3 linked regions of the Homo sapiens genome follow. Each later gene encodes a partner of the first gene's protein in a complex. Each region holds a gene or a part of one and is shown in the gene's direction. Other genes may lie near its edges.

Region 1 (10,580 bases):
AGGTTTCACTAATGTTGAAAAGCCATTTCAATAAGAACCAAAAAATACACAAGAAATTTAAAGAATTTCAGAGTTCAAGATCTTGGAAATAAGGTAGGCTCGAGGAATGATCAAAATTTGAGGTCAAGTTGCTGAGTGATTGAAGTTGGGTAGAAATAAATGTAAATGCTGTTAATTTTAAGGCAGGATTGTAGATAAATGGGAAATAACATTTGAGAACCAAATAAACTACTTGTGCTTCTGCTGTAAATTTTAAGTTCTGTTAGACAAATTTAGTGAATATGGTTTGGTTTGGGTGTTGGGTACTTGGAAGAGGAAAAAATTGTATTGTTATGGTCCTACGTGCAAAGCCTTTTAAAATATTTTGTGATTTCTACATAGGAAATTATAAATGAGTTGTTGATTCCTCTACATGCTGAGCATATCAACGTAGTTATTTCATATTATAATTCTACTGACAGTGTTATGGACTTAACACCCAAATACATGGTCCATCAGTTACTTGCCCAATTCTTTACATTATTAAGGGCAAAAAAATATTATTTCCCTAAAAACTGGTTCAGGTTCCTGGCAAGAATTTGCACTTCTTTCTCCTGAATTGACAAAAGTAATGTGTCTCCTCTGAGACATTTAGTGACTTCGATCTTCTTTCTCAAGGGAGCTTAAATATTGGAGAGAGGAAGTAAAGAGAGTACCTAAGACCAATAGAGACTCATAAATCCAAGAGCTTTTGGTTGTTCCTCCCATTAGCATGAGCTAGCATCCTACAACTTATTATGGCAGAGACTCCTGAGGACCCATGATTGTTGTCAGTGGCGCTTCAACAACAGCTTTTAGTCAGCACTTCCCAGCCATGGAGACTCCAGGATCTCCTCTTATAATTGCATCCCAGGCTTTGCTTCCTCAAATAGCTACACAGGTTGGCTGAGTCTCTCAGCTGCCAGACATCGCAGTATTTTTCCCTCAAGAGTTGTATCTTAAGGACAACTCACAGAATTCTCCGACCACTCTAGTGCTATCTAAAGTGTCTGTTACTTTCAAGTTCTCTAAAGTTGTATTTAAAAAGCAAGTTCTAATATTGTATGTTATTACACCCCGGCTTTATTTTCTCCATAGTACTTACCACAATTTAAATTATCTTGTTTATATATGTAGCATGTCTCCCCCTGCCCCTGCACCCAACCACAAGAGTCTCCTGAAAAAACTTTGTCTTATTTATAGTTGTCACCTCAGAGCCAGAAACAGTGCCTGGAATGTTCATGCTCAATTAATATAGATGCTTTATGAGTAAGGAGAGCATTAGGTTGATGCTTGACCTCATTGGCCATAGTTGACCTATGAGGCTGTATCCAAGGTAAGAAGGTAACTGAAACGAGCAGGATGGTAGTCTAAGGACCCAGGAGGATCCATATGCTGACAGACCTCCCTTGATTTCTAGGATACAGATCACATGGCTTTGGTGTTACGTGGGCCTCAGGTTGACAAATAGACTAGTTATGGGAAGCTATGAAAGGTAGGAGTGATCCTATTTTTATTAATAATATTGTATAAAAAGAATATAATGATGGCAATCCCTCTTTCTGGTGAGTCAGATGAGAGAGAGAGGTGGCATTAGCATCAAGAATGAAAACAAGGCCCTTAAATTCCATTCTCCCTCTCTCTGGGCTGGTTTTGTTGAAGGTAGTATAAGCTAACTGGTATGATGTGAAGATAAACATAGCCCTTTTTCCCCATAATGCCACACCCCATTAATTATAAATTCTTTTGGGAAACCCAAGATTTGGGTTGGAGGGTAGACATCCCTGCACTTAAAATGTCCATGATGAGGACAAGTGCTGAGAGGTAACTTTAACATAGGCCATTTCAGCAATGTGCAGGAAGACCCTGAGCTGGCAGAGAGAGGAAAAGATCTGCCATGAGATAGAAGCTACCAAAATGTCTGTACAACGTCTAGGGCCACATTATCCTATTTCATTTCTCAGATATCAGTGGGGTAATCATGTCCTGCGTCTCCCACCCCTTTCACATCTCACACACACACACACACACCACACACACCCCTACCTTGATCCCACTGATAAAATCCCAGCTAATCCACTGTACTGGGCTGCATCCTGAGAATATCATGAAAATGTAGAGGCTCTTTCCCTAAGCCTAGGATTAGTTGTACCAAGTAGACATAAGGGGTGCCCTGTAGTCTTCTATGTTTTGGTTAGCTGCAGACAAACAGAAACTATGTTCTGAAAATCAATTATTAGTGAGAGAGAGAAGGAGAGGAAGTTGAAAGGGAAGATGGAGAGAGATATGGTTTGGCTGTGTCCCCACCCCAAATCTCATCTTGAAGTGTAGTTCCCATAATCCCCACATGTCATGGGAGGGACCAGGTGGAGATAATTGAATCATTGGGGTGGTTTCCCCATCCTGTTCTCATGATAGTGAGTTAGTTCTCAGAGATCTGATGGTTTTATAATGGGCTTCTCCTTTTGCTGGGCACTCATTCATGTGAAGAAGGACATGTTTGCTTCCCCTTCCGCCATGATTGTGAGTTTCCTGAAGCCTCCCCAGCCATGCTGAACTGTGAATCAATTAAACCTCTTTCCTTTATAAATTACCCAGTCTCGGGTATATCTTTATTAGCAGCGTGAGAACAGATATATATATACACACACACACACACACACACACATATATACACATATATATACATACATACATACACACACACACACACACACGTTTTAGAATTTTTGTGAGCAGTTTTAACAGATTATGGATTAGCAGCCCTATCATACTAAGGTGGAAATACCACATTGTGTGGCATTTGTAAGATTTTGAGGGCACTTAGAGACCATCATTGTTTCTTGTGATATTTATTAACATTTTCATGACAGAAATGCATTTTCTTCAAATAGCCTCATTTTGTATCTAAGGAATATTAGTTTTATTTAGCAGTTATGCTGGGTTCTTAAAGGAGATTCACTAGACCCTCACTAATTCTCTTAGAACTAAGTTGGGTAGATGCATCATGGAACAAGACAGGCAAAGAAGAGGTCTACAAGAAGTTTCCTGCGTTTGTAAAGAGAAGACTGTAAAGAATTTTAGGACTCTTGGGGATATTGAGGAATGCAAAAGTGAGAACAAAGATGGAAAAGGGTGGCATTTTATGAGGATATGAATAAGTAGTGAGACAAGTTCATGGAATCAGACCTGAATATGGTAACTACATTCATTTTGACAATGCTGAATGTTTTCCCCACTTGTAGAAAAACTATAGTAAACAAACTGCTGTGGAACTAGAAATATGTGGATAAAGTGAGACCCTTTGTTAAATGCCGGGCTGCCAAAATGCATATATAACAGATCGGCATAGTTTCCACCTGTTTCCTGCGCCTATCTTATTTTTTTTTCTCACTTTAGGTATACCCTCTCTTTAGAAAATTAGCTAAAACTGAATTATCAAAACAGATCAGAGTACTGTTCATATCACTAAACAGTTCTTCTCTTGTCTAAAAAGAACTGAAAGACTTTCTTTAAAATAATGTGTTTCTCGAATGCATCATGTAGATAACTAACTGCTTGACAACAGACTGGAGAAGTAGCAATGAGAAATTTAAAACCAAAGCTACTGCCCAATTGAATCAACACTGGAAAAAATTTCAAATGGAAAAACAATTTTTTTAAAAAAATCTATTCTAATTGACCCAAACTTCTTTTGAAATGTCGTAACATTTGCAGTTCTTTTTCTCACATTAGTTGTTTTGGGAGATGGAGAGAGAAGCATCTATTTAATCAATGCGTTCTAGACCTAACAATTGTGATGTCAATCAAACATTTTGTCCACCATTTCCATCATGAGTAATCTGAACTGTGAGGTTTTGCTGACATAATTAGTGTTACACTACAATGGCACTACTACATTACTGTTACTATATGGGGACGGTACTTTCATTTTAAGTAGGAAAGTGTTAATAATTTGGCTTAATGTTTCTTAACTAAAATTAGTTTTAAAAGAGGACTGAGTTGGCTTATACACATGTATGCGGTCCAGAGACCTACCTGTTAAAATGTCAATGCCATTACAATTTCACTTTTATGCCAGATATCATTCTTGAACTTCAGGCTCATTAACTCTCATACTATCCCCCAAAACCTTTCAACAATTTTGAGAGTGTATTTTATGTTAATATATAAACTAGTTCATAATTTTGTTCCAGACTAGAAATCAGTATTTAATAAATGGAAAAAATAAGACACTGAAAATCTTTTATTGAATAATGTAAATTCTCACAGAGGCCTCTGATCATACTTTTCAACTTGTGCCTATTTATTGAATAACCAACATCCTTACAGTTAATATTAAAATCTTTAAGTTGTGTGGGGTTTTTTGGAGGGGAGGGATGGGCAATTACCAGCAAACTCCGCCTCCCCCAAACCTCACCTAACCCGAAGCTCCCCGCCTCAGGCTCCCGGGGAGCCAAGGGGTGGGCTGAGGAACGCAGCCTACTTTTACCCACCTCCCTACCTAGTGCTGGGAAGTGACGGAAACGGAGACACCCGGCTCCTGGGGCTGGGCTCGGAGGACCCATCCTGCTTTCCCTCTAGCAGCCTTTCCGGAGCTCACCACCTTTCCTCCCCTCACACCGCCAAAGCCCTGCCTAGCCCTTCACCGCCGCCTGCACCCGCGCCCTCCTCCAGCCGACAGCCAATCACAGTCTTCCACAGCTCCGGGTTTACAGAAGTAACGCTCCTTGGGCCCTCTGGTCCCGCCCCCTCCAGAACTGCTTCCCGCCCTTCGGGCTCCTTGTCCAATCATGAGCGCCCGAGTGCTCTTTGATGCCCGTCCCCTCTACCCGCCCTGCCGAAGACCCGCCTTCTTCTCCTTAAGCCTGACGGAATCACCTGACTCGGAGGCGCTCCCTCAGAAGGAAGGCAAGAAGGGGCGTGTGGGTGAAGGGGAGGGGCGCCAGAAGGAAGGTGGGGATGCCGGGAGCGGGGCGAGCGGGCGGGGGTTGTCAGTCCGATCTCGCGAGAGAGGACGGAAGCCTGTGGGAGCCCGTGGCCTTTAAAGTGCCGTTCAGCCTTTTCCTCCAGGGGTGCTTTGTAAACACGGCTGTGCTCAGGGCTCGCGGGTGACCGAAAGGATCATGAACTAGTGACCTGGAAAGGTGAGTAACGATGGGCAGAGGTCAGCAGGGCTGGAGACTGTAGGGATACGGAGAAAGAAGGCGCTAACATGGCGACGTCGCTCAGCACAGTCCCCACCCCCCGTTTCCCATCACCTCGGGTGCTCCTGACGTGCTCCTTAGCCCTTGGGGCGATTGTGGCTGTGCTGCCACCTCGGCGGCCCGCGCGGTGTGGGCTTTGGGAACCTGACTGGCTGGGCCGGACCGTTAGGTAACCAGCGTTCGTTGTTCCGGCCCCTCCCTCTCGCGCGCTTTCCTAAGGCAGAGGAAAAAGGAATAACGGCTCCCTCTTAGACCCCTCCCTCCGAATTATCTTCACCCTACTTGGGTCAGTTCAGAGGTCCTCGGGGCGCGCGTCGAGTCAGCCGTGTGCGCAGGGAGACCTCTCCCACCCACAGTCCTTGGGTTGGGCGGGGAGAGGGCCCACTCTGGTCTCCCCACCCAGTATTCAAGCGATTGAGGACCGTGTATTGGTGATGGTGGCGGGGAGGAGGATCGGGAGGCGCGGCTGAAAATAGAATCAGGGTCCCTGGCTGCGGTGCAGCTTGAAGGAAAGAATGGTGTGGAGAACCTAGGAGCTGGAAGTCTCGGCCTTTTCCGTCCTTTCCGCCACCCTCACAATCCCGCTACCCCCAGCTTTTTCCCGGTGGGGCGGGGCTTAGGTGTGGGTGCAGACTGATTCTGGTATTTTCCCTTATTTTTTTTTTTTTAAATCTCTGGGTGGACAGCAGAGCGTATGTAAAGAAATAATTTGCTTTTCATCAATGCCCTAGGGACCAGGGCCGAAAGGGAGTGTGTGTACGTGTTTTCTATGTTCGCTCGTTTAACCGAACCTAGGAGGAAAAAGAGAGGAGGAGCTGGGAACTATTTTTGTGCCCCTAGGTAGTATAAAATTGGCTTTCTTTAATGGAGAGTCTTAAAACTGGTGAGGCCAAGAGCAAAACTACTGTGAATATCATGGAGTAAAAGAGATTACTCCTGATGGACCTTAGGCATCAGAAATTTTAGTGAAAGAAATGTTTCTCTTAAAATTCAACACCTATTTTAAATAGTGATGTAAAGCATTTCTTTACATGTACCTTCAGGTTTTCTAATGCTTTCCTGGCTATTATTTAACTGGTACTAAGGGATTGACTAATCCCTAAATTATAATGTGAAAGTTTAAATTTCTTAGAGGTTTTAAATTATGGAGACGGTCACAATGCATGCATTTAAGATATACATTTAAAATCAGAACAAAAACTGACTTTCTTTGAGCACACTTTTTGTCCTATTTGAAGAAACATGACCACTGGCGTTATCATTGTGAGTAACAGCCGTTCTGATCTTTAAATAGCCATATAGCTTTGGTCTCTTGAATCAAAATTATGAAGGTAAAGCTTTATTTATAAAAGCTTGTTAAAAAGTCAAACCTACAGGTTTAAGTGTCTTAAAGTACAAACACAGAAGCAGTTTTATCATGTATTAATTTTTTTTTCCTTACTTGAGGAATCCACCGTAAAAACTTTGTTTCAAAAATGTTAGGAACATCCTTGTAAAATACGTTTTAAATATACAGATTCCCCTCTGCAGATTAAGAAAGTTCATGGATCTTTAAGGCCATCAGTAGTTGCGTAATAGTTAAGAATCCTCGTCTTTGTAAAATAATTTCTAGGAATCTTCCAAATTTACCGTGATGTGTAAAAGAGTTTCTGAGAATCTTCCAAATTTACCATGATGTGTATGTTGCCTTCCTAAGACGTTTAATCTTGCTTTGAGAGAATGCTACTGCCATTAAGTTTTAAGAACTGATTTAAAATGTAATATCGTGGAAATTTAGAACTTAGTTGTTATGTATTTTAATTGTCAGGAAGGAGCTTTCAGGGACTTTTTTTTGTATGTGTAGTGTACATAATACCTTCTATAGCTCCGGGTGCATTTCCTGAAAATCCTTTTTAAAATATCTTATCCGAATGTTTATTTCGTATTTGGGGCACTGTATTTTTATTAGTTAAATATGTAACCCAGGAATTCCTGCACTTTTTTCTTTGGCGTTTTTTGTTTTTAAGCTAAGATAATAGTAGAGGCTGGGCGTGCGCGGTGGCTCATGCCTGTAATGCCAGCACTTCGTGAGGCCGAGTGGGGCGGATCATGAGGTGAGGAGATCGAGACCATCCTAGCTAACACGGTGAAACCCCGTCTCTACTAAAAATACCAAAAATTAGCTGGGTGTGTTGGCTCCTGTAGTCCCACCTACTCGAGAGGCTGAGGCGGAGAATCTGTTGAACCTGGGAGGCGGAGGTTGCAGTGAGCCGAGATGGCGCCACTGCACTCCAACCTGGGCGACACAGCGAGACTCCGTCTCAAATAAATAAATAGTAGAAATGGTTGTCAGCATTTTAACAAATAGTGGGGTTGGGGTGGTCTTTATTGGTATTCAGGATCTGAAAGCTCTATGACTATGGTAGAAAAATATGCCATACATCAAACATCTATCTGTAAGTAGCATTAACTCTTCAAAAAATAATGTACATTTTTTCTACCCAAATTTTTGTATTTTGGAAAACTTCGGTTTTAATGATACATACGTTCTTGTCTGGTAAATTGTTAGATCGTGTTAGATCAGGTAAACAATCTCACCAATGTGTGCTTTTTCTACTAATTTTGTCTAAAGGCTCTTCCTTCCAATATGAAATATACCTATAAGTAGGCATTTCTTTCTCTTTTTTATTCTTACTAAAATGTCATTGGAGAATATAAAGTAGTTGAAGTCTCCCTTATGAAAACCAGATTTTCATCAGAACCTCTCGTTAAAAATTCAGTGAATAGCAATAATTAATATTCAACTGATTTTTATAAAAGTCAATGCATATAGCACCTGTTGGGTTATTTTGTATAATTAAAATGTACCCTAAAAAAAATCCCACCTTAGCCAGGTGTGGTAGCTCACGCCTGTAATCCCAGCACTTTGGGAGGCTGAGGCAGGCGGATCAGCTGAGGTCAGGAGTTCAAGACCAGCCTGGCCAACATGGTGAAACCACGTTGGTAGGCGCCTGCAATCCCAGCTACTGGGGAGGCTGAGGCAGGAGAATCGCTAGCACCTAGGAGCAGGAGGCTGCAGTGAGAGCCGATCGTGCCACTGCACTCTAGCCTGGGCAACAGAATGAGACTGCATCTCAAAACAAAACAAAAACCAAAAAATTCACTTAGTATTGTTATAATCTGGAGTTTAATTTAGTATTTCTGTGTTTATCTCATACTCACACCTGTTCCTCAAGGCTAAGAACTTGTCTAAAATGCTGCATGTTCTCTTTATGTAAGTTTTAATGTTGAAGTAGTAGGATAGTATTCACCTATTTCTATTTGAAGGAAAACCCCAGAGAACATTTTATTTCCTTTGTTATGTTTCTCAAGGTTAAAAGGTTATATAGTAAGGTATAAGATAGTTTCATAGAAAATCAAGGAAATTTGTGGATCTTTAAGGCCATCAGTAATTGTATTTTATCTTATTTTATTTTTGAGACAGAGTCTCCCTCTGGCTTCCACGCTGGAGTGCAGTGGTGCAGTCTTGGCTCACTGCAATCTCCACCTCCCGGATTCAAGCGGTTCTCCTGTCTGAGCCTCCCGAATAACTAGGATTACAGGGGTGCACCACCATTCCCTGCTGATTTTTGTATTTTTAGTAGAGATGGGGTTTCACCATGTTGGCCAGGCTGATCTCGACTTCCTGGCCTCGAGTGATCCACTCGCCTTGGCCTCTCAAAGTGTTGGGATTACAGGCGTGAGCCACTACACTAGGCCTATTTTTACACATTATTTTATAATATAAATATATTTAATGTTACATATTATATAAATATAAATAAATATGTATTCATTATATGTGTCTTTTCAATTTGTTGAGACTTTTTGACAACCTTGAAACTGGTGTATTCATTTTCACTTTTAAGGCATTACAGGCATGAGCCACTGCACCCGGGCCTATTTTTACACATTGTGTTACAGGTGTATTTAATGTTACATATTATATAATTATAAATAAATATGTATTCATTATATATATCTTTTCAATTTATTCTTGTTGGCAACCTTGAAACTAGTGTATTCATTTTCACTTTTCTTTTTTTTTTTTTTGAGACGGAGTTGCTATGTCACCCAGGCTGGAGTGCAGTGCCGCTCTCAGCTCATTGTAACCTCTGCCTCCCAGGTTCAAGTGATTCTCCTGCCTCAGCCTCCTGAGTAGCTGGGATTACAGGTGCCCGCCACCACACCTGGCTAATTTTTGTATTTTTAATAGAAACGGGGTTTCACCATGTTGGCCAGGCTGGTCTCGAACCTGCCTCGGCCTCCCAAAGTGTTGGAATTACAGGCATGAGCCACCACCCAGCATCATTTTTCATTTTTTAAGTATGTTTATTGATTTTTTTTCCTTGGCATTTTGACATTGACAGTAAAGAAGAGATGTAAACAATGTTTTGGGGGCTTTGCCTATTCACCCATATTTGCATTCTGTATCTTAACAAAGATAGTGGTTCTCAGCCACTTTTTTGCCTTTCTACCCAAGGAATACAAAATACTTCCAACAGTAGTAGTGGCTTATTACCACAGAGATTCTCAACAAGACTGGTAGGGAAAGACAGGGAGAAATAATTGTAATTGGCAAAATACCATATGGACTTTGGTTATTTTTGTAATATATAGTATTTTTATCTATAATATTGACCATAAGTTTATAAATATATTCCCTAAATATTCTTTAGTTTGCTAGCAGAACCGAAACCTTTGTCATTCTAATTTTTTTAGCTTTGCTCCAATGTTATAGCTTTGGTTTTTCTAATTTTACTGTTCGGGCTAGTATGTTTGCTTGCATTTATTTATTTATTTATTTATTTATTTATTTATTTATTTATTTATTTTTTGAGACAGAGTCTCGCTCTGTTGCCCAGGCTGGAGTGCAGTGGCACGATCTTGGCTCACTGCAAGCTCCGCCTCCCAGGTTCATGCCATTCTCCTGCCTCAGCCTCCCAAGTAGCTGGGACTACAGGCACCCACCACCACGCCCGGCAAATTTTTTAATATTTTTAGTAGAGACGGGGTTTCACCGTGTTAGCTAGGATGGTCTCGATCTTCTGACCTTGTGATCCGCCCACCTCGGCCTCCCAAAGTGCTGGGATTACAGGCATGAGCCACTGCACCCAGCCTGCTTTTATTTATTAAACGTGTCGGAACAATTTTTTTATATATCAACTTGTTTTGCCATACTAACAAATAATTGTGTTCATTATTTTTGTTTTCTTCTAGTTTGTGCATATATATTGCAGTTTTTACAGAATTATATCAAATAAGTTTTATTTTACTTTTATAGCATTGTATTTTTCCATGTTGTATAACCTTTATGATATTTGATTGTTACTTGAT
Region 2 (10,697 bases), on another chromosome or scaffold:
AGAAAATGTTCGCAACCTACTCATCTGACAAAGGGCTAATATCCAGAATCTACAATGAACTCAAACAAATTTACAAGAAAAAAACAAACAACCCCATTAAAAAGTGGGCGAAGGTCATCAACAGAGACTTCTCAAAAGAAGACATTTATGCAGCCAAAAAACACATGAAAAAATGCTCATCATCACTGGCCATCAGAGAAATGCAAATCAAAACCACTATGAGATACCATCTCACACCAGTTAGAATGGCAATCATTAAAAAGTCAGGAAACAACAGGTGCTGGAGAGGATGTGGAGAAATAGCAACACTTTTACACTGTTGGTGGGACTGTAAACTGGTTCAACCATTGTGGAAGTCAGTGTGGCGATTCCTCAGGGATCTAGAACTAGAAATACCATTTGACCCAGCCATCCCATTACTGGGTATATACCCAAATGACTATAAATCATGCTGCTATAAAGACACATGCACACGTATTTTTATTATGGCATTATTCACAATAGCAAAGACTTGGAACCAACCCAAATGTCCAACAATGATAGACTGGATTAAGAAAATGTGGCACATATACACCATGGAATACTATGCAGCCATAAAAAATGATGAGTTCATGTCCTTTGTAGGGACATGGATGAAACTGGAAATCATCATTCTCAGTAAACTATTGCAAGAACAAAAAACCAAACACCGCATATTCTCACTCATAGGTGGGAATTGAACAATGAGATCACATGGACACAGGAAGGGGAATATGACACTCTGGGGACTGTGGTGGGGTGGGGGGAGGGGGGAAGGATAGCATTGGGAGATATACCTAATGCTAGATGACGAGTTAGTGGGTGCAGCGCACCAGCATGGCACATGTATACATATGTAACTAACCTGCACAATGTGCACATGTACCCTAAAACTTAAAGTATAATAAAAAAAAGAAAAAGAAAAAAAAATAAAGCCCTTCAAGTGCTACAAAAAAAAAAAGAAAGAAAAATCATGTGCTCAACTAAATTGGACATAGTTGTTCATGTTTGTATTCTATGAACATCTAGAAAACAAGTACTTACCATATGTAGATATACACACACATATGTTTTTGGGAAGAAAAATCTTGAAATGGATTGGTTAAAATAAAGACACAGACTTTTAAAGATCACTGTAACTCAGATTTGCAGTATGAACATTTAACTATTTCATTGACAATGATAAAGATTTTTGCCACCCTTCTTTTTGTAAACCATTGCATCAAGAATCACAACAGTGTTTCATTTAAAAGCAACCTAAGGTAGGAAAGAGCGCTGAGTGTGTCTCTAGATTCTAATTATGATTTATTACAAGAAACATTTTAACAATTCTTATTTAACAAATTCCAGAATATCTGACTCTCCTTAAACTTTAATATAAAAGTATCAGTTTTTTTTGTTTTGGGAGTACTTCTTTAAAATCAATTATTTACTGTATATCTTTATAATTATAGCAAATGTAATTAGGATATAATACTGTGTTGGGATTATTTTGCCAACTTTGTTAAATGACTTATTTACAGAAAATCTGACATCTTCTTTGCCTCTATTTTAAGTTTGACATCGAGTGGTTAGAATTTTGAGGAAGTTTGATCAATGATGAAATGATAGCTTGGTAGGGCATGCTAACCTAACTGTTTAAAAAATGTCTCTTCATAATTTATAATGACAAGCACTTAGGTTTTATTTAACTACACTAATGTATTCTATTTAAGTATGTCTAAGTACTTATAGCTTACCTATATCCATAGTATTAATACAGGCTCATGTCTAAGAGTAATTTGTAACTCTAACCTTATATAATGTTTTAGTTTCATTATTTCTAGTGATTCTGAATTACTGCTGTATTTTCTCATGCACATGATAATTAGATGAGCTTCTATCAAAGCATGTTCTTGTTTAATTATTACTACTGCTTTATTAAGGAATATTATTGTTTTTCCCACCTTCATTTCATATCTTCATAGTCCATGGTTATATATTTTTTATTCCAATAACTGACAGAATATGTAATAATTTAAGTTTTATTCAGCCAGATTATAGAGATGAAGAAAAGGATTTGCAAATTAGTTTGATTTTATCTTTGTTCAATCTCCTATCTACTGTTTGTATTATATATTTCTTTTTGTTGAATACAGTTAAGTTTATCTTTAATCAGGACTGACAATCTTTTTCAGTCCAAACCTCTTGAATAGCTAGGAGTAAAGACTTGACAAACTTCAACTAAGTAATATTATGGTAAGAGTCCCTTAACTGTCACACCTTACCTTAGTGGAAATGAGTTAACTAACTTAACACCAAAGAACAGTTGTAGAAGAATAAGCAATGTAGGAGAGAATACTGCTTGCAGTATTGGATTTAAGGGAATTTCCAAGATCTCTATTATTCACTGGCACATGGCGAGGAAATCTGTTTAAATCAGTTGTTTCCAGTTGGTTCTTCAGAGTAGATGGTGTTTATCATTATCAAGGCTCTGATATATCGAATATTAATGACAGATAAAAAAGAGAATCTCAATCATTGAGTATGTCTGCAAAAAGAGCTAGCTCCAATTTAAAAGGGTATTAATTTTCATAGAGAGGTAATATTTTTTCTGTGGTATTCCCCATGCTTAATGTACTTTCTAAACTTGGATGTACTTGGATAGAAATCTGTTGTTTTAAATTGAATATTCCTCTGTTCACCCTTATATTTCATTGAAAACAATATTCAGTGATATCATCAGTAAAACAATAGGTATGAAATAGGTGGCTTCTTTGTTTAATAAATATGATTTTTAGGAATCTGACAAAGAACTAATGAGTTGTTTTACTATAAAAGTTATGTTGATATGCATAAAAATAGAAAAAAATTCCAGATTTTTAGAGAAGAAAAAATATCTTAAAGATAGTTTAGGAAAATGTAAATGAATATAATCTAAAATATTTGTGTATTTGTCATTTTAAAAATATAAATAATTGAGGTAACTTCAGGATAAAAATGTCACTATGATGTGTCATTATATATTTTTCTTCTGAATCACATGATTTATATAGAAGTTTATCTGCAGAATATGAGATTCATCTTGTGTTATCTGAATGACTTTTTATCTGTACACCCCAAAGACTATTTCATGATATCTTATTTTGTTAAATAATTGCTAGTTTTCCAAAAGTATATAAGTTTCAAAAGTGAATTTAAAATTTCAAGAAGACTCATAGCCTGCAAGTCTGATTTTATATTTTCATTCTTTGTTGCTTATTAAAACTACAGTTGCATTAATGACTGTTGAGGACTTTGAGAAGAGTTAGTCTCCCAATTGTTGAAAGGCTAGTGGTCTGCTCTTCTTTTTTCCCTTAACTGTTCAATTCTCAGATATTGACCAGTGGAATAAGGTAATTGAACAACTAGGAACACCATGTCCAGAATTCATGAAGAAATTGCAACCCACAGTAAGAAACTATGTGGAGAATCGGCCCAAGTATGCGGGACTCACCTTCCCCAAACTCTTCCCAGATTCCCTCTTCCCAGCGGACTCCGAGCACAATAAACTCAAAGGTATGCCCTTCAGGAATGACTTGAGGACAACTATGAGGGTGACGGGCCAAACAAGCACACAGTATAGAGACCTCTATCTCTTTCTCTTTGTTCCCTTTTATTTTTAGTTGACACATGATAATCGTACATTTTTGTGGGATATAGGGTGGTATTTTTGAAACATGTATAGAGGTATAATGGTCAAATCAGAGCAATTAGCATAACCCATCACCTAAAACATTGATCAATTCTTTAATTGGCACAGCCTCAAGTTAAAGAAATATTTCTTCAAAGATCGTTCCTACAAAGGGGAGTAGCCACGGATTTTAGAATTGTCTGGATATTCAGGGCCGGGGGCGGTGGCTCAAGTCTGTAACCTCAGCACTTTGGAAGGCGGAGGCGGGAGGATCAAGAGGTCAGGAAATCGAGACAGACCATCCTGGCCAACATGGTGAAACTGCGTCTCTCCTAAAAATATAAAAAAATTAGCTGGGCATGGTGGCACACACCTCTAGTCCCAGCTACTCAGGAGGCTGAGGCAGGAGAGTCGCTTGAACCTAGGAGGAAGAGGTTGCAGTGAGCCGAGATCGGGCAACTGCATTCCAGCCTAGAGATAGAGTGAGCAAGACTCCGTCTCAAAAAATAGATATATATTATACTTCATAATGTAATTCCAATTTTCTTGAGTTTACTTTTTAAATCAATTTGAATCTCTGCAATTATGTTTGTAAATGATAAACTAGTTTGCATATTTGATTATTGAATTTAATTTTTAATATAAAATTGGCAAATTATAAATAATCTTAATATACAAATAACCAAAGAGAAGAATGTATTCTACTGTGTTTGGAAAAGAGCATAACACATTTGCTTTCAAATGAAAGAATGAAAGATAAAGCATTGAAACATTTTCCCATATTGTTTCCTAAAAATAGTATTGTTTCTTAGCAAGATGATTTTGTATTGGTGTAGTTCATGACCCTATTCATGAAGAATCCATTGTAACCCCAGCCCTTTCTTTTTTTTTTTTTTTTTTTTTTTGAGACAGAGTCTCGCTCTGTCGCCCGGGATACCGATCTAGGCTCACTGCAAGCTCCGTCTCCCAGGTTCACTCCATTCTCCTGCCTCAACCTCCCGAGTAGCTGGGACTACAGGCGCCCGCCACCACGCCCAGCTAATTTTTGTATTTTTAGTAGAGATGGGGTTTCACCGTGGTAGCCAGGATCGTCTCGACCTCCTGACTTCGTGGTCTGCCTGCCTCGGCCTTCCAAAGTGCTGGGATTGCAGGTGTCAGCCACGACCACGCCCGGCTAACCCCAGCCCTTTCTAAGAGCAGAAAAATGGATAGATTTGATGAGAGAATCTTATGAGAATGGTACATGAATTTGGATGTAAAATCAGTTACAAATTAAAGAGGTCTTTAAAGCAATGAATAAATAAACACAGCCCTGTTAGGCTATTAGGAGGCCATTGGCAATGAGAAAAATTAAATATTGAATTAATGTATAAGTATTTCTGTATTTTTGTTATTCCTGTGCGGTACAGAGTTTTAATTTGAAAGTAATGATAATCAGTTTCTAGGATTGAGTTTCCCAGAAAAATGATTAATAGAAATAAAAAATTCTCAAGTTTAACTAGTGATTTTTCATATTTGTTCAGAAAATTAAAAGATATATTTATTGATGTAATTACCAAGAAAATACTTACAGGTAAAAAATTAATTGCTACATTTTAACTATAGTATGGTTAATATTACGTGAAAAATACATGAACGGCACTAGAAAAAATATGCCAATAATCACAGTCATTGCCTCTAGCTAGTGGGGTTAGATATTATTTCCTGATTTTTGTATTTTATATAATTTTCAAATTTGTAGAATTAGCCAAGTTGTTTTAATCTGAAAAATTGATTAAATAAAAATTGATATGTATCCAGAGTCATCTATGTTGATTTTTTGAAAAATCCATTTAAATTTTGTTATCTTTAATTTGATGTTTTACCATATAGTTAGAATAAACTGAATATTTTCACGGTTCAACTTTCAGATCAGTTGAGTAACAATATTGATTTGAGATATTCATTTCTGTTAAAACTTTATGTAAAAGACTAGGGGAGGGATAGCTTTAGGAGAAATACCTAATGTAGATGACAGGTTGGTGGGTGCAGCAAACCACTATGGCATGTGTATACCTATGTAACAAACCTGCATGTTGTGCACATGTATCCCAGAACTTAAAGTATAATAATTTAAAAAATTTACATATTTTTAGAGGTTAAAATTAATGTGTCTTTTAACAATCTTACTAAATAAATAGCTATCACCATATAATTTTATAACTGTTACTGCCCACAACCATAAAATTAATTATGATAACCTTTACATAATATAGAGTTTCTCATTAGTGTCTGGTGTAGCATTAGACTGGCTTCAGTCTTTAACTACTGGATTTCATCAAGTCATGATTCCATTGATTAAAAATACCTGATGATTACAGAATGTTAAAATAAAATTCAGTAGTTGAATGATATTATTTCTATCACTTCAATTCTTTGATTGTTTTTATGTATATAAGAAATTTGTGGCTGGGAGCAGTGGCTCACTCCTTTAATCCCAGCATTTTGGGAGGCTGAGGTGGGAGGATCTTTGAGCCCAGAGTTCGAGACCAGCTTGGGCAATGTAGGGAGATCTTATCTTTACAAAAAAAAAGAAAGAAAGAAAAAATAGCCAGGCATGGTGGTGCATGCCTGTAGTTCCAGTTACTCGGGAAGCTGGGATGGGAGGATCCTTTGAGCGCAGGAGTTCCAGGCTGCAGTGAGCTGTGATCATTCCACTACACTCCAGCCTGGCAACAGAGGGATACCCTGTCTCAAAAATAAATAAATAAATAAATAAACAAAAACAAAAAGAAAAGAAAAATTTGTATGATACAAACTCTTAAGTCAATTTATATACTAAAATTCTGATAATTCCGTTGTATAAATAAGAATATAGAGACACACGTGTTGATTAACTTCAAACAGCCGTCCACACATTTGTTGAACATCATGCATTTGCACTCTGTGCTCTTTATTCTGTTTATCCTATATTCATGCAGGTTACCAAAGAAGATGACTTTGCTTACATAAACTCTCCAGGTTGATACATTTTACTAAGAAGTTTGCGTGAATAATTATATACCCAAAGTGTTACAACCCTTGGAGAGCCTCAGAATGAAGCCTTAGGCTTAGAGACACAAAGAAACAGGTGTAAAATGCATTTTCTTTTCCATCACATCAAGGGATTTACCTGATGTTTGGAAGGAAGATACTATTCCATACTTTGTTTTCTTAAATTTCCTCTCTGACAAATTTCCTTACTGAAATCAAAATCTTACTAATTGTTTTTCTCATTTATTGTTTCAGCCAGCCAAGCCAGGGACTTGTTGTCAAAGATGCTAGTGATTGACCCAGCAAAAAGAATATCAGTGGACGACGCCTTACAGCATCCCTACATCAACGTCTGGTATGACCCAGCCGAAGTGGAGGCGGTAAGAAATAGGCTGCCTTTACTTTGCTTCCACAAACAAATCATAGCTCATAGCAAAAACTGAATAGGACTAGAAGCCTAAAGAATGCACAATGGATTTTTATAAAATTTCTAAGTCCAAAGCCTATTATCTGCCCCTCTAAAAGCTATTTTCTTCAACATATGTTTTAAATACATTTTTTTCAGGACTTACTAGAAGAGGGTATGATTTAGTCCTACAAACCTTAGATGTCCATGATACACTACCATTTGTTTCTGTTAAATTGCCAATACTTGTGTTTCTTCTTGTGTGTTTGACTGCCAGTCTCTTCTAATGCAAACTTAGTGGTAGGAAACAACAGAGGACAAGTTGCTTAGCTTGTATTTTTTTTTTGAAAAGATACCTGCCACTAGTAAAATGTGATACTTAAGAATATTTCAATTAGAAAGCTTTTATAAGATGATTAAAACGATTGGTGGCTTTGTGAAACCTTGCATGAACTAGATGAACTAGAAGTGGGTATTTCAGTAAGTACATTACTTCAGGTTGATCAGTATGATGTATCTCCATGTCTGATACCCAGACATGGAGAATCTTCTCAGAAGCATAACTCTTTCTATTTTAAAAATATTTTTCAACCATTTACTATCTTCTGTTCAACCTCTTTCTTTCATCTTTACCTCTCTCCTTTCCTCTGTATGGATCCAGGGCTGAGCAGGGCAAGGGGGGCTTGCTGTTGCCCATGTGTGTTCTATAGGCCTCCTGATGAGAATTTCCTTTCTGCACTGCCTTTAAATGTTTCTATCAGGAATGTTACCTTCTCCCTTAAACATGAGAAGCTTCTCAAATTCTTAGAGTACCTGTGCTAAAGCATCTCATATTTTTTTACATAATACCTTCCAATCCATTTGTTTGGATTTGTTCTTAATCTTTCATTTGAAATACTGTTTGTTTCCCCAAAGTATTCTTAAAGATATTTTCACTTTCTTTCAGTTTTCTTTCCTCTGCTTCACCATGTGTTTTTCCATGTCAGAGGTGCTAGATTCAAACACATAATTCTCATTTCTTCATTCTTCACTAGAGAAGATACGAAAGAAAGTGAGAACTAGGTAGAATTGAACTTTACAGACACAATATTAAACAGGTCCTTTTCATAATGTAACCCAATCTTTAAGCATTTAAAAACTTCAGAGAAAACACTTAAGTGATTAATGAATCTCCCAAGTGTGAAGACTGCACTACATTTTGTTTAAGATCTGCTCTCTTAGTTTTACAATGATGTTGAGATTTCATGTTGCCTCAAGTTAATTTTTAGTCATTTTATTTGATTCTTACCAAATAATATCCCTACAATTAAATATTTCTGAGTTTAATTATAATGTTCTAAAAATTAATATATATTCTTACAACCAAAATATAGAACCTCTTCCAGTCTCCCACACTTGGGAAATACTTGCACAGATGTTCTTGGGATGGAATGAAGTAGTGAAGTAAGTGAGAGAAAGTATGATGTATATGTTTACAAAAATTAAGTATAAAAATTTTATCTCTGATGAAATTCAAGAAAATATTTTAGGTTATGTTGATAAACATTTTATATAAATATGTATTATCTGAAATTGTTTCTCCTCATTTATTTTGAGGCATATTAACTTATGCCTCACTATGTGGCATATTTATTTTTTCTTATATCTAACTTAATATGTATAATCTGTTTTTAATGCATTGTGGCCTAGAGTTTAATTAGAGTCATAAAGTCTGCATTTGTAATTCACTTTTAATTATGTTGCCTATAAAAGAGATAGTTGCTTGGAATCTATAACATCTTACTGAATAGTATCAATGAGTTTTTAAATTTATTTTAACTTTTTATGAAAAACTTCTTTGTAGAATGAAAAGATAAAATTTAGGATACTAAAATAGCTGGAGCCTTTTTCTTAACCACTTTGATATTGGTCATGCTGGGGCACGGATAGTAACAAGGCAGGATGTATGAATTTTAGGGGAAGGATCTGATAGAGCCTGCAGTTCCAGAAAAAGAAGACAGTTAATGCACAGAACAAGCAAGTACTTGACATCTAGACTCAGATCATTGATTATACAAGGGTAAACATGTCTTACATCTAGACATGTTGTAGTGAAGAGATGGGAATCATGATCCCAGGGCAAGAACAATTTATTACTCTATGAAGTGCATTACAGTGGTCACAACTAAGAAGAGAAAGATCCTGAAGGTGCTAGAATCAGTAGTCAGCTATGCTTTCTGCAATATCCTTAGAATTCATGTCTCTGTTATTGCATATGAACATGTGTTTAACATAAGATAACCTTTCTCTATGGACACATGGCAAAGCTATAATATAGTGATATATCTTCTGCCGGGGCTGACAAGACTGTTTTGCAAAATATACCCCCGTATGTCTTTATAATCCAAATAAATGGAAGTATCAAATAATTGGGATTTTTATTCTGATCAAAGAGCTTTCAAGTAACTCACATGCTGTTAGGGAGGGAAGGAAATTCAAAGATGAGAGAGAAGAAAAATAAGTTTCATTGGATGGAAATAATGGCAAGTGGATAGGGGATAAAGAACAAACTATGATAAGGTGATATTTAGAGGAAAAGTCAAAAGAGTATAGATATGCTATGTGTGCTAAGCTATTAGTTATACTACGAGCTATCTTATCATGTTTCCCAAACTACCAAAGTACAAAAATCAAGAGAGAAGAGCATATGAATGAATGTTGTCATAATTCTGAGAGGGAAAATTAGTCATGTACACATGAGTTAGAAAATTTTAAAAATTGGATGCCAAGCTCAAGAGTAATCCATCTGTGTAGTAATAGTACATAAATATTTTGAAATAACTGCTCAAATTATTAGCAACTTCTTATTCAAATAATGTTTAGAGTAACAAAGTGTGATTTCAAAGTAGAACACACAAATCGTGTATAATGTCAATGCTTTTTCATGAAACAAATAGAAGATGCTCTAACTCTGGTTCAGTATTCATCAAGAGGGCAAATATATTACACACAAATGTAATTGGTTGACTTATTTGCATCTTCATAGGTATGAAAGATGAGTTAGGTTTAAATTTCTGCTCTTCCCATTACTAATTTGCTTTGATCAAGTTGCTTAACCTTTCTGCAACTCAGTTTTCTAAACTAAGAAAGTTCTCCTTTCTTATCATATGTACAGCATAGCATTCTGAGATTTTGAAAAGTTAAAGTGCTTAGCAAATGCTTGGGAGTCAGTAAGAATCATGTAAATTATTCTTACCCTTATAATACTTATAATTACTATTACTATTATGACTTTTACATGCATAGCTTTACTATCTTTTGATATTTGAAAAAGATATATGCGTCTGGTGAAAAAGACTAGCTGGCCAGGAAATTGCAGAAATATTCCACAACATTTCTTTTTTGAACAATGATGACAATGATCTATTTCCCACATGATTTTAGGTCCATTTTTTTCATTTTCTTTTGTTTAATGTATACCTACCTCTTCTTTGCCAGGTAGAAGAAAATCTAGTGTCATTAGTTTAAACCAAAATAAAGACACATTATAGATTCCACAAATCTTGATTATCAGTAGGAGATTTTTGGGATTTTGGGGGGAACTCAGTTTAATATCTTCCTTGTGCCCTG
Region 3 (10,697 bases), on another chromosome or scaffold:
AAGAGGTTGTTGAATAGGAGCCTGCTTCTTGTTGGTCTGCTTTGCCAGCGGGTTGAATTTTGACATATTTCAGTCATCTACATGGTTGAGATGCTTTGTTGCACGAGTGGAAATACAAAATAATGTCTGACATTAGGATTCCAGTGCTCTAGAGGTCTCTGGTCAAGTCAATGGTATGGGTAGTAGCTTTTCTGATTCATGTGGTCCAAGGAAGTCATTATAACCACATAGCTTTATATATGAATCATTTGCCTATGTCAGTGAACTGTGATGCTGATTGTCTTAATCATGAGCTCTTTACCTGAACATTTAGAAGCCTTGCATTCTTACTCTTAATGCAGGTTAAGTTGAACTTTGATTTCAGAAGTGAGTTGACTGAAAGGTAACAGGAGTATTGAAATGAGTTATCCTGTCATTCAGGTCAATAGGTGGAGCTAGAGCAATCCAGGAATCAGACCTAGGTTCATTTCTCAGTTCTGCCATCTGGACTTTGTCATCAAATTCTGGAGCTTTAGGCAAGTGCCTTAATGTTTTTGGCTTTAAAAGTATAAACTGAGGCTGTCAGAACTTTTTTTTATAGAAGGCTTGTTCCTCAGATAGGTGGTTCTTGAGAAAACATACTAGGACAAAAAGAGCCCTTCTTGGGTGATAATCAGAAGCCTAAGTTAAGAACAGTAGTCAAAGTTAGGATTTTGTAATTTTGTAATTTTCAGAAGCCAAAAAAATTGTTGAGTTGAATTTTTTCTTTAATATCCAGACTTAGAAAACAAATGGAAGGCTTCACCATAAGCTAGAGATTCTTGGAAAGGTAGGCTTTTATTTATTCCACAGCATCATGCCTTCTAATGAGACCGTATGCTCCCAGAGACTTTGTGGAAGACATAAAATGAGTTCATTATCCTCAGGAAGCTTATAATCAAGGATTAGACTGAAGGCATCGCTAAACAGTTAATTTATGCTCTTTTAAAAGGTATATGAAAGGGTTCCCGCCAAACAAAAGCCCACTTCACATCTCTGTGCAGGCCAAATTTCACTGAAATCCAGTTTTTAAAATTGTGTGTGTGTGTGTGTGTGTGTGTATGTGTGTATACGTATGTGCATGGAGAGAGACAGAGAGGAGACCCCTTTTTGGAAAACTTAGTAGCTTCCATTCTTTTTCTTGGAGGTGGGTTATATCACAAATACAAGAGATACCTGTGTTTCCTGTTACCCTTTATTATATTTCAGATTTAGTTAAAATCTGCCATTCTTTAGAAAGTCAAGGAACTCAAACCTTACAATGATTGCTAGCGTGGGTTTTAAGGTCAGCCCTGAGTTCTAATCGTGCTCCAATCTAACTGTGGTATAGGCTAGTTCAGGTTATATAACATATTTGGGCCTGTTTTATTATCTGTCAAATGAGAATAATAATAGCACGTAACCTCATAGGGCTGTGAGGTTTAAATTAGGTACTGCATGTAAAGTGCCTGGCACTGTTGTGGTGGCTGGAATGCTAGATACAAGTATTCAGGTAGTTTTTGCTATTGTTATCACTTATATTTAACTTTGAACAAACATAAAATGCCAAGTAAACGTCAAACCAGTTTAATGCACAGTGTCCATTCTAATTCTCCAGAATATGCCATTTGTTTCACTCTGCATCTCTGGGGGGTTTATTTAAAATTCGATCATCTCATGTAATCTGAATTGACTGAGATGATTTATATTAACATTTGGACCAGTAATCCTCTCTATCTTAAAATTTGGAAATGTTCCAGAAGCAAATATTGAAGGGAACATATTTGCCACTTTCACGATTTTTTGCCTTTTCCCACAGGAGAAAATTGCCTAAGCTTTCCTAGGTTTGTTATAGACATCTAAAGGAATGAGAATTTAGGAGCTACGAATAGCTTTATCATGTGACACATTTGAAGAAAATGGAATGCTGTCACATCTTTTAAATTTAGTGTTATTGGGATCTTCGATTCTGTGAAGATTGCAGATTTGTCAGAGACCTGGTAACCACAACAATTCATTGAGGCCTGGAGGCCTCTTAAAAAATGAGGGAGATTATTTATTAGTACCACTTAGAAATATTATCTTTTCTGTATTTTCTGTGGTTTTCTAAGTCTTCTGTTTAGCGTTTCTATGATTATAATGGTGGATTAAATTTCTTGTTCCTTCTCAAGAGCATCTACTATGAGATGACACTGGTTTTTACTTCGGCAGTATTTACTGAGCATTGCACTATACTAATCCAGGTATTCGGTGATGTAGGAACCAAAGGAAATAGAAGTCAGTTTCTACCCTCAGTGAGCTGAGTATAATTTGATAGAAGATAAGGATTAACGTAAGCACATTTATGTCCTAACACAAGGAAGCAAATATTGTTAGTCATTTCATTAGGAATTTCTTTTGTCATTGGGGCATTTGGGGCCTTCCAAACCTTACATCTCTTGCCATGCCTTTGTACTCACTCGATAAACCTGAGAAAGCAAGATATCTTCTTTTCTGATTCCTGGTTTAAGTTGAGAGTGTGGTGCACATTAGTCAAAATCCAAATCATAAGAAAAGGCAAACCTTATGAATTCATTTTGGAATACAACAGGGTATCAAAATAAGTATATGAGAAATATGAAAAGCTGACAGTAGAAAAGATGCTACTCAGGTACTAACCAGAGTTCTCAATCTCCTCTGTATTGAAGCTCTTATGATGTAAGGCTGGATCTGTACTAGAAACACTTTTTAAAGTCTCTCTCCAGTATTGAGAAGTATAGTCCTCCAGTACTGCCTCTTGGTGCTGAGAGACTCAAGCCTGCCACCCACCATATTTCTGGGGAAACTAGAAACGAAAAATAGCCACACACAAGCACTTGCTTTGCTTGGCAGGAAACATCAAAACCATAAGATGTTATTTCCTAAAAGTCATTAATTGGGTAGAAAAATCACCATTTTCTGACTTGTTCCAGGAAGGATGGCTTTCTGATTTTCAGATGCCATTGGGTCAACCAAAGGTAAGATAAAGAAAAGCTACTGCTGTGTGGATTTTTCTGTGACTTGAGAAAGCGTCACTTTTCAGTTAAACAAAAACCAAAGCATCTAGCTTTGGCTGTTACTATTGAGAATTTAAAAGTCTTAATGTTTTAATTTGTTTACATTTTATATTTTGACTAAGTAGTAATGAATTCACTTTGACTCAAAATTCCAAAGATTTAAAAAGATAAAGAATCTCCTTTTCTACTCTGTGTAGCCACCTAGTTCTTCTGCCTGGAAACTGTTAAAATTCCTGTGAATACTTCCAAAGATAGTTTATATATGTTTAAGTATATAATCCTTTGTTCAAAATCCTTGGTCCAGATGTATTTTAGAATGAAGGCTTTTTTTGCAGTTGTGGAAAGATAATGTAGCACATCTACCGTGTTATCCAAAATCCCTAGTAAGAGGTTGTAGCCTCATGATTAAACACATTAACATTTCTGTAAAAAATACAGACATAGGCCAGGCGCGGTGGCTCACGCCTGTAATCTGAGCACTTTGGGAGGCCGAGGCGGGCGGATCACCTGAGGTCAGGAGTTTGAGACCAGCTTGGCCAACATAGTGATACCCCGTCTATACTAAAAATACAAAAATTAGCTGGGCGTGGTAGCGTACGCCTGTAATCCCAGCTACTTGGGAGGTTGAGGCAGGAGAATCTCTTGAATCTAGGAGGCGGAGGTTGCAGTGAGCTGAGATCGTGCCACTACACTCCAGCCTGGGCGGCAGAGGTGTAGACTCTGTCTCAAAAAACAACAACAACAACAACACCCAGAAATAATCAAAGACATTAATATTTTTATAAAAGCATAACAAATACAAGTAGGGTGAATAAAGATTATAAAATCTTATGCTACGTCTCGTCAGGTTTTACCACCAAATACGTTTGTACTAAACTTATTTTAAAAACGTATTTTTCACAGCTTTATGGATTTTGGCTTTGCCAATGAAGGATAGGTGTCATACATATATACAGTACTGTATAGCCTCTGCTCTGCTCCCTCCCTTTTTATTTAATGTAAGTTGTTGCATGCAATATGTATCACCTTTTGCTTTTTTGTTTTTTGCTTGTTGGTTTGTTTTTTGAGACGGAGTCTCACTCTTGTTGCCCAGGCTGGAGTGCAGTGGCACAATCTCAGCTCACTGCCACCTCTGCCTCCGAGGTTCAGGTGATTCTCCTGCCTCAGCCTCCTGAGTAGCTGGGATTACAGGTGATCCACCTGCCTTGGCCTCCAAAGTGCTGGGATTACGGGTGTGAGCCACCGCACGTGGCCTGCTTTTTGTTTTAATATAGCTGAGAGATTATTTTATATCAGTCATATCAGTATGTAAATGGCATGCTTTTTTAACATCTTTGTGGTATTCCATTTGTCTTACTCTGTTTGGGCTGCTATATCAAAATACCATAACTTGAGTGGTTTAAACAACAGAAATTTATTTCTCACAGTTCTGGAGGTCGGGAAGTTCAAGATTAGGCTACTTAGTCAATTTGGTTCCCTGGTGAGGGTCCTTTTCCTGGCTTTATAGGTGGCCGGCTTCTGGATGTATCCTCACATGGCCCCTAAGAGCTCTAGTCTGTTCCTCATCCTATCATGGGGGCTCCACCCTCATGACCTAATATAGTCATGAGAGGCTTAGTTAACTCCTAAAGGTCTCTCCTCCAGATACTATCAAGTTAGAGGGTAGGCCTTCAACATATGAATTTGGAGGGACACAGACAGTCCATAACATCATTATACTGGTATACCATTTAACTCCTTTCTGATGCATATTTAGGTAGTTTTCAGACTTTTGCTATCAAAAGCCATGGTGCAGTGGATTACCTTGTGCATACGTCGTGTTGCACTTAAATGCATAGGATAAATTTCCAGAGGTAGAGTTCCTAGGCCAGCGTATGTGCATTTGTAATTTTATGTATTGCTGAAGTGTAGCCTGTAGAGGTTGTCCAACTTCCATTCCACCAGCACTGTGTAAGGATGCCTGCTTCTTATTACCCTTAGACGTCTTTCATCTTTTAAGGGCTGTTTGTGTTTTCTTTCTTTTGAACTGTCCTTGTCTTTGCATGTTTTTCTATTGCTTTGTTGCTCATTTTCCTAGATTTGTAGGATTAATTTTACAAATTGGCTCCATGCTATTTTTTGGAAATGTTTTTCCCCAATTTGCTGTTTTCCATTCTATGGTAGGCTATTATGTATGGTTCCAACTTTATTTTCTTCACCAGATATCCATCCATTTGTCCCTACACCATTTATTAAATAATCCATCTTTGTCTTAACTGATTTAAAATGCCACCTTTACCATTTACAAAATTTCCACGTGTATTTGGTACCATTGTTTCCATTGACCCATCTGCCTGTTTGGGACCTGAGCCATCCTGTTTTTATTATTGTAGTTTATGCTGTGTTTTCTGCTAGGTCTAATTCCCTTTTATTTCTCTTCCTTTTCAGAAGTTTTTTTCTGGCTTCTATCTTGTTTATTTTATATGAACTTCTAAAAACAACCCATCTAGTCTAGTCTGTACCCCTCCTCTGCCAGTCTTTCTGTTGGAATCACTTTTTTTATTTTATTGTGGTAAAATTATGCACAGCTAGATGCACAAGCATTACAGTCCAATAAGTTTGCCTTTGTATACACTTGTGCAATCCCAGATCAAAATACAGAACACTTCCATCACCCAGAACCTTTTCTTACATCCTTTTCAAGTTACCTTGCTCCCCAGTGATTGGCTTCTATTAAATGGATTCAGTGTACTGTTAGGATTTCTTTGTATTTATAGAATAAGTGACAGCTTTATGATGTACCTTTATATCCAAGAATAGGAAAAACAACCTTTTCATTTGTTGAAGTCTCATTTTGAGTTCCTGATAGCATTTTTAAACATTAAAATTTTTTTTTGCTGTTTTATATATTTAAGTTTTTTTTTTTTTGCTGGAAATGGCATCTTTTTTTCCACTTTTATCTTCTATCTGGTTATATATAAGAAAGCTTTTTATTTTGTATATTAGTTAATATTTCATATATTAAATAATAAGCCCCCTGTAGAATATTTATTATTTCTAATAGTTTTGTAGTTGAATTTTTTATTTTTCTTATGTCATGCCAGCTTTTTTGTTTCCTTTGATTTTTACCTCCTCCCTCCCCCAACTTTTTATACTCTTATATTTTTTCTTATTGCATTTATAGTGGTGATTTTAGAAGATTATAGTTTTCCTCCATTATATGTAAAATGAGCCAAAATATCTGTTTATCTGTTGAGTATTTAAATGTTATGAATAATAATGAAATTAGGGAGGGATTATGGGAATACTTAAAGTAGTGTGAAGTTTTCTCTCTAAAGTTAATGTAACTTGAAATGAATTGTGGTTTTCAAAATGTTAAATGGACAAGTTGGGGATCACTTGATAGTGAATGTAGGATTAGCAGTTAACTGCCTTGTGTCTTATTTGATGATACAGTCATGCACCACATGGTGAGGTTTCGGTCCATTACAGACCACATATGTGACAGTGGTCCCATAAAATTATACCATATTTTTACTCTATTTTTTCTATGTTTAGATACACAAATACTTCCCATTGTGTTACAGTTGCCTGCAGTATTCAGTACAGTAACCTGCTGTACAGGTTCGTAGCCTAGGGTCAGTAGGCTACACCATATTATAGCTTAGGTATGTTGTACTATCTAGGTTGGTGTAAGTAGATTCCATGATGTTTGCACAGTGACGAAATTGCCTAATGATGCATTTCTCAGAAGGTATCCCCGTCCTTAAGCAAGGTGTGACTATGTGTATAGGCTGCTTTCTATGTGCTTAGCACCCAGAGGCAGCTCCCGGAAATATAATTTAGTCTGGTGTCAGAGAGCATGCAGTCAAAGTAGAGGTCAAGATATGAGAAGTATGAAGTGAATGAATGTAGACAGGAGGGTCTTAAGCTTGGAAAAATGCAAAAATCAAGTCAGGAAAGCACAGGAGTGAGAGGGTGCAAAGAGTGAGTTTGATTTGGCAACTGGATTGGGGCAGGTTGCTCATCCTTATAAAATTATATGGTAGTTAGGTACTTAGCTGAACTTCAGTAGAGATCTCATTGCTTAATGGGGATTAAATAGTTTATTTTCTGTCTCTTCTTCCCTTCCCCTGCTCCCACCAAAAAGCTAAGGCAGTTTTCTACTGAAGGACGCATACATCGTTAAGTAAGCTAGAAACAAAAAGTTAGAACCTCGGGAAAACAAGTATCCAGACTATCCTAATGGTATAGGAGCTAATGCATATTTGGTGCCTATCATATACCAGGCACTGTTCTTGTGCTTTATGTATGTTAAATTGTTTAAACATCCCACAGCAACCCTACAAGGTGGGCACTGTTACTCCCATTTTATACATGAGGAAACAGGCATAGAGAGATTATATGGGAAGTTGTTGGTGATCTTGTTGGGTGGTTTTATTAAAGTGGGAAGAAAGAAGCCAAGTTGAAGATGGTTAAAAAACAATGAATGATTTTTCTTTTTAAAGACAGGGTCTCCCTCTGTTGCCCAGGCTGGAGTGCAGTGGTGTGATCGTAGATCACTGCAGCCTTAAACTCCTGGGTTCAAGTGAATCTTCCTGTCTCAGCCTCCAGCCTCCCGAGTAGCTGGGACTCGGCTGGCGAATTTTTAAGTTTTTTGTAAAGATGGGGTCTCACTGTGTTGCCTAGGCTGGTCTGAAACTCCTGGCCTCGTGATCTTACCACCTCCGCCTCCCAAAGTGCTGGGATTATAGGCGTGAGCCACCACACCCAGCCCCTGAATGAAACACTTTGAAAAAGAGTGAGAAATGAGCAAGTGCTGACACAGTGGGTGCAGACCACTCTTTTAAGATTAGCTCTGAAGTGAACAAAGAAATGGGTTGGTGGATAAAGGAAATTGTGAGGCTCAGAAAATGAGTGAAAATGGCATTGCTGTATGTAGGAAAGGGGATGCAGAGTACGGGTAGAGAGTTTGGCCCTCAGTAGAGGAGAGATCTTTTCCATCTAACAGGAGGAAATGCAGAAAAGTTGTGTGCCCTTGCGAGGAAGTTTGGAAGTTGGAAGGTGAAGGCCTATTCTCCTGGCTTTCATCTTCTCTGTGGTTTCTGTTTGCTCAATGAAGCATGAGATTCATACGGGCAGAAAGGGATGGGAGTTTGGGGAGTTTGAAGCAGTTTGCCAAGAAGTATTGATTGTTCATTTAAGGTTTAAAATCTTGAATTTAAAGTGATATCAGTCAGCCTGGTTTTGTGACCCCCCACCCCCCCAGCATTATTTAGCTGATTAGTTACAGGCACAGATTAAGGCAGGTAGTTGAATTTACCCAGGGTGAGATTTTGCCAGGTGTATTAGAGTTCTCCAGAGAAACAGCAAATCGGAGTTATAGGTAGGTAGACTGAGATTTTAAGGCATTTGTTTTTGTGAGGGCTGGCAAGTCTGAAATCTGTAGGGCAGGCAGGAAATTCTTGGTCAGGAGTTAATACTGCAGCCTTGAGGCAGAATTTTGTTTTTCTCAGGGAAACTTGTTTTTGCTATTAAAGCCTTACCAAGTGATTGGATGAGGCCTACCCACGGTATCAAGGATAAGCTCCTGTACTTAAACTTGACTGTTTGTAGATATTAATCACATCTACAAAATACCTTCACAGCAACTACATTAGTGTTTGAATAACTGGGTACTACAGACTAGCCAAATTGACACTTAAAACTAACCATCACACCAGATCAGTTCAAAAGAAGGAAAGGGGGACAAGGGAAATAAGGACCTTTTAACTAGAATGCTTATTGTGTGGTGGTGGTTGAGTGTGTAACTGGCCACAGGGTTTGAGTAAGTTAACTTGAAAGATTGAATGCCATGGTCAGAGTGGAATACCTGAAAGAGAGATTTCACAAGTATGACAATTATTGACATTAATAATGCTCAGGTTAACTTTGGGTGTGGGCTTCCGAGGTGGAATTCAGAGACAAATCCTGAACGTGAGGAGGCCAATGAGTTAAAGAGTCTGAGGTATTAAAAAAGGGTCAGTCTGCATGCATGGTGAAATCAGCAACTAGTGAGGGGAGTAAGGGTACGTACTGTAAACCAGTTGTAATGTCCTCAATGAATAAGGAAGAATTGGAGGGAGGCTAGACGAACAAGAAAGGTTAAAGGTAGTGTAACAGGCTAAGTTTGCTTGTCACAAATTGGGAATTTCAGAAGGCCAAGTAAAGGAATTAGGAGGATGAAGAATTGAGTCAAATGGAGGACGTACACAGCAGTGTGGCAGTGAGAATTCAGAGAATAATAGATAACCAGGGAGAGCTGGATTTTTTCTGGTGACCATAAGCAGGGATGTGAGGTATGAGAGGATTAGTCCTGATACAGGAGATGGTGGTTATCACTTTTAGTGTTGTAGGACTCTGTGGCAGTGCTTTCAGACTGTTACTCATGACCCATTAGTAGGTTATAGAATTTTGGGAGATCACAATTTCTGTTACGTTGTTAAAAGAAATGAAATAGAAAATACCATAGTGTGTCATGTGTAATAAGGGACTAAGAATTTTTTAACGGTTTTATTGAGATATAATTCACATACCATTATAGTTATCTATTTGAAATATACAGCTCAAAGCTTTTTTAGTATATTCCTGGAATAATGGAGCCATCATCACAGCCTAACTTTAGAACATGTTTGTCACCCCAGAAAGTAACCTCATACTCACTAGCAGTCACTCCCCATTTCTTCACACACACCCCCTCCTCTCCCTGGCCCTAAACAGCCACTTACCCACTTTCTTCTCTATAGTTTTGTTCATTCTGGCTATCTCTTTTTTATTTTTTTGAGATGACGTCTTGCTCTGTTGCCCAGGCTGGAGTGCAGTGGCGTGATCCCGGCTCTCTACAGCCTCCACCTCCCGGGTTCAAGCAATTCTCCTGCCTCAGCCTCCCGAGTAGCTGCGATTACAGGTGCCTGCCACTAGGCCTGGCTAATTTTTTTGTATTTTTAGTAGAAACAGGGTTTCACCATGTTGGCCAGGCTGATCTTGAACTCCTTACCCCAAGTGATCTACCCACTTCAGCCTCCAAAAGTGCTGGGATTACAGGTGTGAGCCACTGCACCCAGCGCATTCTGGATCTCTCATGTAAGTGGAATCATACACTGTGCGATCTTTTGTGACTGGCTTATTTCACTTAGCATGATGTTTTTAAGGTTCATGTATCATGTATCAGTACTTCGTTTCTGTTTTTTTTTCTTTTCTTTTTTTTTGAGACAGAGTTTCACCCTTGTTGCCCAGGCTGGAGTGCAATGGCGTGATCTTGGCTCACTGCAACCTCTGCCTTCCTGGTTCAAGTGATTCTCCTACCTCAGCCTCCCCAGTAGTTGGGATTACAGGCGCATGCCACCACTGCCAGCTTATTTTGTATTTTTGGTAGAGATAGGGTTTCTCCATGTTGGTCAGGCTGGTGTTGAACTCCTGACCTCAGGTGATCCCCCACCTTGGCCTCCCAAGTGCTGGGATTTCAGGTGTGAGCCACTGCTCGGCCTTTTTTTTTTTTTTTTTTTTTTTTTTTTTTTTAAATTAGATCAGGTCTTGCTCTGTCACCCTGTTACCCAGGCTGGAGTGCAGTACCATGATCGTGGCTCACTACAGGCTGAAACTCCTGGGCTGAAGCAATCCTCCTGCCTCAGCCTCTTGAGTAGCTGG

Evidence for each region.
Region 2: the proteins of ATF2 (region 1) and MAPK10 are in contact, whole or in part, in a crystal structure (PDB 4H36), measured with the Homo sapiens proteins. Residues at the interface, in NP_001243019.1 of Homo sapiens: Lys48, His49, Met51, Thr52, Leu53, Lys54, Phe55; in NP_620448.1 of Homo sapiens: Asp150, Ala151, Gln155, Met159, Glu164, Arg165, Tyr168, Val197, Lys198, Ser199, Asp200, Cys201, Trp362 (codon at 7,036), Glu367 (codon at 7,051).
Region 3: the proteins of ATF2 (region 1) and MAPK8 are in contact, whole or in part, in a crystal structure (PDB 6ZR5), measured with the Homo sapiens proteins. Residues at the interface, in NP_001243019.1 of Homo sapiens: Phe36, Val44, Lys48, Met51, Thr52, Leu53, Lys54, Phe55, Gly56, Pro57; in NP_001310257.1 of Homo sapiens: Asp112, Ala113, Gln117, Val118, Met121, Glu126, Arg127, Tyr130, Leu131, Tyr133, Val159, Lys160, Ser161, Asp162, Cys163, Val323, Trp324, Asp326, Ser328, Glu329.

Annotation. Positions count from the first base shown.
Region 1 is NC_000002.12:175,162,635-175,173,214, reverse strand, and holds the start of ATF2 (cyclic AMP-dependent transcription factor ATF-2), read left to right. Parts: upstream 1-5,011; 5' UTR 5,012-5,165; intron 5,166-5,505; exon of another isoform or gene 5,506-5,582; intron 5,583-10,580. UniProt on the Homo sapiens protein: Transcriptional activator which regulates the transcription of various genes, including those involved in anti-apoptosis, cell growth, and DNA damage response.
Region 2 is NC_000004.12:86,060,631-86,071,327, reverse strand, and holds part of MAPK10 (mitogen-activated protein kinase 10), read left to right. Parts: intron 1-3,372; coding exon 3,373-3,555; intron 3,556-6,937; coding exon 6,938-7,062; intron 7,063-10,697. UniProt on the Homo sapiens protein: Serine/threonine-protein kinase involved in various processes such as neuronal proliferation, differentiation, migration and programmed cell death.
Region 3 is NC_000010.11:48,309,676-48,320,372, forward strand, and holds part of MAPK8 (mitogen-activated protein kinase 8), read left to right. Parts: intron 1-10,697. UniProt on the Homo sapiens protein: Serine/threonine-protein kinase involved in various processes such as cell proliferation, differentiation, migration, transformation and programmed cell death.